2 linked regions of the Homo sapiens genome follow. The protein of the gene in region 1 purifies or fractionates together with the protein of each later gene. This does not show direct contact. Each region holds a gene or a part of one and is shown in the gene's direction. Other genes may lie near its edges. The genes, in order: SLC36A1 and MYH14.

The links.
Region 2: the proteins of SLC36A1 (region 1) and MYH14 purify together in Homo sapiens (affinity purification with mass spectrometry; one large-scale study listed by BioGRID and IntAct). This does not show direct contact.

What each region holds. Positions count from the first base shown.
Region 1 is NC_000005.10:151,457,440-151,461,254, forward strand, and holds part of SLC36A1 (proton-coupled amino acid transporter 1), read left to right. Parts: exon of another isoform or gene 1-1,260; coding exon of another isoform or gene 1,261-1,353; coding exon 1,354-1,496; intron 1,497-3,815. UniProt on the Homo sapiens protein: Electrogenic proton/amino acid symporter with selectivity for small apolar L-amino acids, their D-enantiomers and selected amino acid derivatives such as 4-aminobutanoate/GABA.
Region 2 is NC_000019.10:50,307,655-50,311,179, forward strand, and holds the end of MYH14 (myosin-14), read left to right. Parts: intron 1-1,350; coding exon 1,351-1,523; intron 1,524-1,985; coding exon 1,986-2,136; 3' UTR 2,137-2,886; downstream 2,887-3,525. UniProt on the Homo sapiens protein: Cellular myosin that appears to play a role in cytokinesis, cell shape, and specialized functions such as secretion and capping.

The sequences.
Region 1 (3,815 bases):
TTCCTGAGTAAATCCACCCAGGGGACACCACTCTCACCACCCTCCCAACACATTGAAAGGACATTTTTTTCTCTCACCATTTTAAAAATGAGCACATCTATAAAAATAAAAAGGAAGAAGAGTTGTGGATGGGAGATGTTGAGACGAGGGCCAGGGTGAGCACCTTTCAGTTTCCTGGTCCTCCTCTGAGCTGCTTTCAGCTACCATTTCTCAGTACTCAGGTTGGCAGCAAGAAAGGAGTCCCAGGGTCAGGGTATAAGAGTTACTGGTGGCCTCCAGAGAGTATAGGATCAGCCTGTGGTCACAGCAGAGAGAAAGAGAACGGCATGTGTGGCTCTGGGATTTGGTGGGAGTTTCAGCAGAATTGGATGATCCAGAGGGGATTTCTGTTTTCTTTTTTTTTGTTGTTTGTTTGTTTTTTTTTTTGAGATGGAGTTTCGCTCTTGTCGCCCAGGCTGGAGTGCAATGGCACGATCTCGGCTCACCACAACCTCCGCCTCCCGGTTTCAAGCGATTCTCCTGCCTCAGCCTCCCGAGTAGCTGGGATTACAGGCATGCACCACCACGCCCGGCTAATTTTGTATTTTTAGTAGAGACGGGGTTTCTCCATGTTACTCAGGCTGGTCTTGAACTCCGGACCTCAGGTGATCCGCCCGCCTTGGCCTCCCAAAGTGCTGGGGTTGCAGGCGTGAGCCACCACACCCAGCCCAGAGAGGATTTCTTGAGTGAAATGTGTTCTCTATTGAAGGCAGAGGAAAAAGAGTATACGATGAGAAATACCCAGATTTCCATCCCCCCAAGAGCTTGTACATATATATATATACGTGTGTATATGTGTATACGTGTATATATATACATACACGTGTATATACGTATATATATATATATATATATGGGATATTTATATATATATATATACACACACGATTGAACTATTGCACAAGGTCCAAGACATTATCTCAGAAAGGAGTAGATAATCCTGACCTAAGGAATAGGGAATGCGGAATTCCAGGAAGCACTTCTCTTTCATTTTCCCCCACTCCTCCCAAGCAGTGCCTCACTTCTGCCTTGTCTAGCTGTACTCCGGAAAATTAAGAAATTTATGAGTGTAGCACCACGTATACCAATGGGAAGGATGGGAGTCAGAAGTCAAGTGAACTCAGCCCGCCTCTGTGTACTTTGCACTTTTCCATTTCCCTTGGTACCAGGCACTTTCATACTTAATCCATAGTGGAGCTGTCACAGTGAGCAACTCTGACAATGACAGCTTCTACCCCAGAGGCCACCCCAAATATGGAGCTAAAGGCTCCAGCTGCAGGAGGTCTTAATGCTGGCCCTGTCCCCCCAGCTGCCATGTCCACGCAGAGACTTCGGAATGAAGACTACCACGACTACAGCTCCACGGACGTGAGCCCTGAGGAGAGCCCGTCGGAAGGCCTCAACAACCTCTCCTCCCCGGGCTCCTACCAGCGCTTTGGTCAAAGCAATAGCACAACGTGAGTAGCTGTTACCTTCTCCTCTCCTGGGTGGGATTCGTGTTCCTAAGCCTCCCTTGGACTTATTTTTCCCCCCAATTTCATCAGTCCTCCACTTTACAGATGAAGGTCAGCAGTGAAGAGATTGGGCGAGTGACTGCGCTGAGATTTGCCTTCCTGGGCTGCCACTCTCTAGGCAGTTTCTTACTCTTTTTTCCTTTCAGCTGTGTTGGCCCCCCAAGGCTGGTGCCAAGTGAGAGCTTGGACTTAAAAAAAGCTTCTACAGAGGACATTCTTTTAATTTAAAAGTGTGTCATCTGTGCTAGAACCCCAAATAATTTCCAAGCATAATCGGAAGCTTCCTTTGCAAAGTCTCCCCCCGAATTCTGCCCCATCACCAAATCAGTATTCATTTGACTGAAGAAGTGGGAAGAGAGAAGAATTAACTTCTGCACTTAAAAAATTCAGGGTTGGTAGGAAAGGAAAGATAGACTTTGCATTCTCCAAAGAGGGCTTAATCTCTTGTCTCCAGAAACTGGGACCCCAGACTCATTTGGGCTGAGTTTGGCCCGCTTCAGGTCTCACTTTCCCCAAATGTAAAGAAAAATTGAGGACTCCACCACAAAGCTATGCTGGCTGTGTGGGGCTCACCACTTGAATTAGAAAATTCAGAGGAAGTTTTGCTACTCCATTGAGTTAGTTTCCCAGCTACTCCTGATTTCAGCAGACCTCTGACTTTTCTCTGTGTCCCAGCATCTCAGCTTTTGCAGTCCTGTTTATTCCTCAAGCTTAGCTATTACCTTTTCTGTGTTTTCTTGTGGACTGAGTGTGACTTACTGAGAGATCCTTCATGTCCTAGACTTATGCCATTCCTGATGACTGCCCAAGCGGACCATGGAAGCTTCTGGGCTCATCACTGGAGAAGCTCCCTCTGCCTGCACTGTCTGCTGGTACAGGGCATTTTCTCTTGCGAACTGGGGTGGAACTAGAAGAATGTCTGTCCACATTCCTGGCCCGTCACCACCACTAGCTGATTTCTATGCCTCAGGCTGGAAGTACTCAACCAGTCCTCTAAGATTCTGTTTCTGTAGCTTATTTCTCAGGGGTATGCTTTTGTAGATTCCCCATTAGCCTGCAGTGGGAGTTAGCTGGTGGTAGATTGCTTAGAGCACAGCTGGCAGCAGTGTGGATCACCCTGCCCCTCTTTCCTCCAACCTTATCAGCATTGGCAGCCCCCATGCAGAAGCATCTCCACACACAGCCAATGGCATGTGATGGCTTCCCTTCAGAGGTCATGCTTGTTATCGTAAGATACTTCTAAGCTTCCTTCTCTGTAGTTTCCTTTGCAGTTTTTGCTCCTTTTTGATCTCAGATATCAACTTGTCTAAGCAATATTTAGCAGATGAGGTCTGGATTTTTATGTTTATAGAGACATCTCTGAAGCTCAAAACCTACCAACTAGCAACTTTAGGATAGTAGCTCATAGGTTTTGGACAAAATTATGTCCTTGTTTCTTGGAAATCGAACAAATCAGAAGATACCTTCCTCAGGCTTGTATTGTGACATTTTCCAGGGTATACTTTGTTCCGAGTTTCCCTTCCTGCCTTGATGTTGTGATACAGTGTAGGTGACCAGGGAAGCCTATCTGTAGTTGATGGCAGGTATTACAGTCCCATCACAGGTGGTACAAGATAAAGTAATTTGCTGGGGCTTAGAGGACTGGTTGAGTACTTCCAGCCTGGGGCATAGGATCCACGCAAGGATTTATATAGAAAACATGCCAGGTATGATTAAGGTAGAGGTTGATTTGGAGGACCTTCTTAACCTAAATTAATATTTTAATATGTCGGAAGTGTTAGAGACAAGTTTTTGAGCTGGGTTCCTTTTATATTTCTGGTTTGCCCCACCCTTTTATCTAGTTTGCCAAGGAACAAAATACATGGAAGTACTTCTACACCTACTGCACATATGCATGCACACACCTGGCTCTTCTAGAAGTCAAGGGCTCAGCAAAAACCCCTAGTTAGGGGGTGCAAATAGGAACCCCAAACACTTCCATGAGTTTCATGGGTTACTTCCTTTTATTTTTTTGAGACAGGGTCTTGCTCTGTTGTCCAGGCTGGAGTGCACTGGCACAATCATGGCTCACTGCAACCTCCATCTCCTGGGCTCAAGTGATCCTCCCACCTTAGTTTCCTAAGTAGCTGAGACTACAGGCATGCTCCTGGCTACTTTTTGTATTTTTTTTTTTTTTTTTGTAGAGATAGGGTTTTGCTATGTTGCCCACTTAGTCTTAAACACCTGGGCTCAAGTGATCCGCCTGCCTCGGCCTCCCAAAGT
Region 2 (3,525 bases), on another chromosome or scaffold:
TTCTTGATTACTTACTGAGCAGTTACTGTGTCATAAGCAACTGCTTTTTAAAAAATACATATTTGCATTTCCTCACTAGTCCCATTTCACAGATGAAGAAACTGAAACTTTAAGAGGATATATTTTGCATCAGAGTCACAGAGATAGAGCCTGGATCAGATCCCAGGTCTGTCTGGACAGAGTCCCTCTGCCCTTAAAAGCTCAGCTGTGCTTTATTCGCCATTCATTCCACAAACAATTATTGAGCACCTGCTATGTGCCAGACACTGTGGTAGGCATTAGGGATATGGATGTGAACGAAACAGAGGAAGTCCCTGCCCTCATGGAGCTCACATTTTCTGCATAGGATGAGACGTAATAAACCTGTAAACAAGCAGATAATTACAGATTGTGACAAGGGCTATGAAGAAAAAAAGTGAAGAGAGAGGAAGACACAGAGGATTGGGGAATCCTCTTCAGGTTGGGAGATCAGGAAGAACTCTTTGAGAAGGTGACATTTAAATTGATACCTGAAGGGTGAAAAAGAGCCAGTCAGAGGGAACAGCAAGTATAAAGGCCTTGAAGAATAGAAATACGTTTGGTGAGTTCAGAACAAAAAGCAGATTAGTATGGTCTAGATAAACATCTGTTGTTATTTTAGTCCTGGTCTAGCTTCTTGGTAGAGTTTAACTTCTTCCCTCACTTTGGCTGCCTCAGCTCCCTACAAGGGCCCTTCCTAGATGCCAGAATTTATAAATTGCGAAGTCATTGATTCCAACCCTCTGCTGATGTGCCAAGTGCCAGGATGGTATCTGCACTCACTTCCAGTCCAGCACCTGCACGTTGCTTCTTGTGATGGGAGCTCATTGACTCCAGAAAATGTGGGATAGGAAGGCTGAACGATAAGAAATGAGGTCAGATCATGTATGTTCCCTCCCTGAAGAGAGAGGTGGTAGGGTCTGGGGAGGATCTCAGTGAAGTTGGTCTGGACAGTGGGTTTATGGGAAGAGAGAACTGGACAAGAAAAAGACCCTGTGGGGCCTGGAATGCCAGGCTGAGGGGCTGGAACCTTGTCCCGGGGGTACTGGGGAGCCATGAAAGGATTGTGAGCAGGAGGGTCTGGGTCAGCTCTGGGTATAGGAAGACCTTTCTGAGGCCATGTAGGAGACAACCTGGAGGGGAGAGACTGGAGGTCAGGGTAGAGGCTGGCATGAGGGATTTAGGAGAAAAGAACAAGGCCTAAACAGAGAGCAGAGGATGGGGCAGAGAGAGTCAGGGGGCAGTAGGGATGGGGCAGTAGTGGGCTGTTGGAGAGGGAGGGAGTGATGACAGTACCTGGAGATATAACCCAGTCCCCCTGCTTCCATCAAGCTGGAGAAGGGAAACCTTCGAGTCAAGCAGCTGAAGCGGCAGCTGGAGGAGGCCGAGGAGGAGGCATCCCGGGCTCAGGCCGGCCGCCGGAGGCTGCAGCGTGAGCTGGAAGATGTCACAGAGTCGGCCGAGTCCATGAACCGTGAAGTGACCACACTGAGGAACCGGCTTCGGTATGGTCATCCCACGTACAGGCCTGACGGGTGGGGAGCACCCTAACTCCATAAACCCCAGGGACGCGAGGCCGTGCCAGGGGCAACAACAGGGGGAAATGGGATCCACGGGGGTGTGGGGCTGTGGGAGCAGCGGCTGTGTTGCGGGAGAGCCAAATCCAGGTAACTTCTTTCTTCCCACACCCATTTCTCCCTGTCATCTCTGTGCCCTCCTTTCCCACCGTGCACCACCACCTTTCTCTCCTTTCCTCCTCTCTGTGTGTCCTTCATCTCTCTCTGCCCCCCATTGCTTCTGCCCGTCTCCCTCCATTTCTCTTGATCTCATCCCTCTCTTCCCCCTTATTTTGTTCTCTCTCTTCCTATCTCTCTCTCTCTCCCCCTCATCTCTCTCTCTCCTCCCCCTTTCTCCTCCCCTCCCCTCCCCTCATTTCATCTCTGTATCCTGGTCTCTCCTCCCCACAGACGCGGCCCCCTCACCTTCACCACCCGCACGGTGCGCCAGGTCTTCCGACTAGAGGAGGGCGTGGCATCCGACGAGGAGGCAGAGGAAGCACAGCCTGGGTCTGGGCCATCCCCGGAGCCTGAGGGGTCCCCACCAGCCCACCCCCAGTGACCCTACCCTGTCCCCAGATGCACTAACAGATGGGGCCCAGCCCCCTTCCTCCCTGGACCCCACGGGCCCCTGTCCCAGGAACCCCGCCCTCTGACTTCTTGCCCTTTGGAAATGGTGCAGCACTCTGGCATTTATCACCCCCACCTGGGTCCCCTGCAACCTCCCATCAAAGGATGACCCCTAAACACAGAGGAGCGGGGCAGGCAGGGAGGCAATGACTGGAGCTACCTTGCTTGTTGGGGGACTGGGTACAGTTGGCAAGCTGTGTTTCCATCAGCTCCCTGTCCTCCTTTCTTCCCTCGTTATTGATCTATAGACATTAGGAAGGGAGTGAGACGGCTCCTCCACCATCCTCAGCCAGTGCAACCCATTCCCTCTGCTTCTCTCTCTCTCTCTCTCTCTCCCTCCCTCTCCTTCCCTACCCTCTCACCATCTTTCTTGGCCTCTCTGAGGGTCTCTCTGTGCATCTTTTTAGGAATCTCGCTCTCACTCTCTACGTAGCCACTCTCCTTCCCCCATTTCTGCGTCCACCCCTGAACTCCTGAGCGACAGAAGCCCCAGGCCTCCACCAGCCTTGAACCCTTGCAAAGGGGCAGGACAAGGGGACCCCTCTCACTCCTGCTGCTGCCCATGCTCTGCCCTCCCTTCTGGTTGCTCTGAGGGTTCGGAGCTTCCCTCTGGGACTAAAGGAGTGTCCTTTACCCTCCCAGCCTCCAGGCTCTGGCAGAAATAAACTCCAACCCGACTGGACCATCTCTGTGGCTGTGTGTGTTCCTGCAGGGGGTCTCTGATGGGGCAGGATGGGCACAGGCTGCTTCAGCCTGCTAGGGCAGCAGGTCAGGCAGCCTGCTGGTTAGAATGACACCTGCGTGGGTATACAGGGACATCCTGTGGATCAGGCGCTTCATAACTCCTTTCCTCCTGACTCCAGTGTATAATGGAAATATTCCCTGCATTATACAGATGAGGGAACAGTCTCAGAGCAGCAGCATCCCTCACTCCACGCCCCCAGTGAGTGCTAGAAGGGGTGTTGCACTCGGGCCAACTCTTAAGTTTTGCAAAATAAATGACAGGCCTGCTGCAGTGGCTCATACCTGTGATCCCAGTGCTTCGGGAGGCTGAGGTGGGAGGATCACTTGAGCCCAGGGGGTGGAGGCTGCAGTGAGCTATGATTGCATCACTGCACTGTAGCATGGGTGAAGAGTGAGATCCTGTCCCAAAAGCAAAACAAAACAAAAAGACAGCCGTGGTCGTTTGTGCTGCGTGCTGTGCTAAGCACACAGTTTATCTTAACCCTTACATAGCACTACAGGTAGAGATTTCATTGCACTCCAGTGCCTAGAACAGTGTCTGGCACACAGCAGGCATTCACTCAATATTTGCTGAATA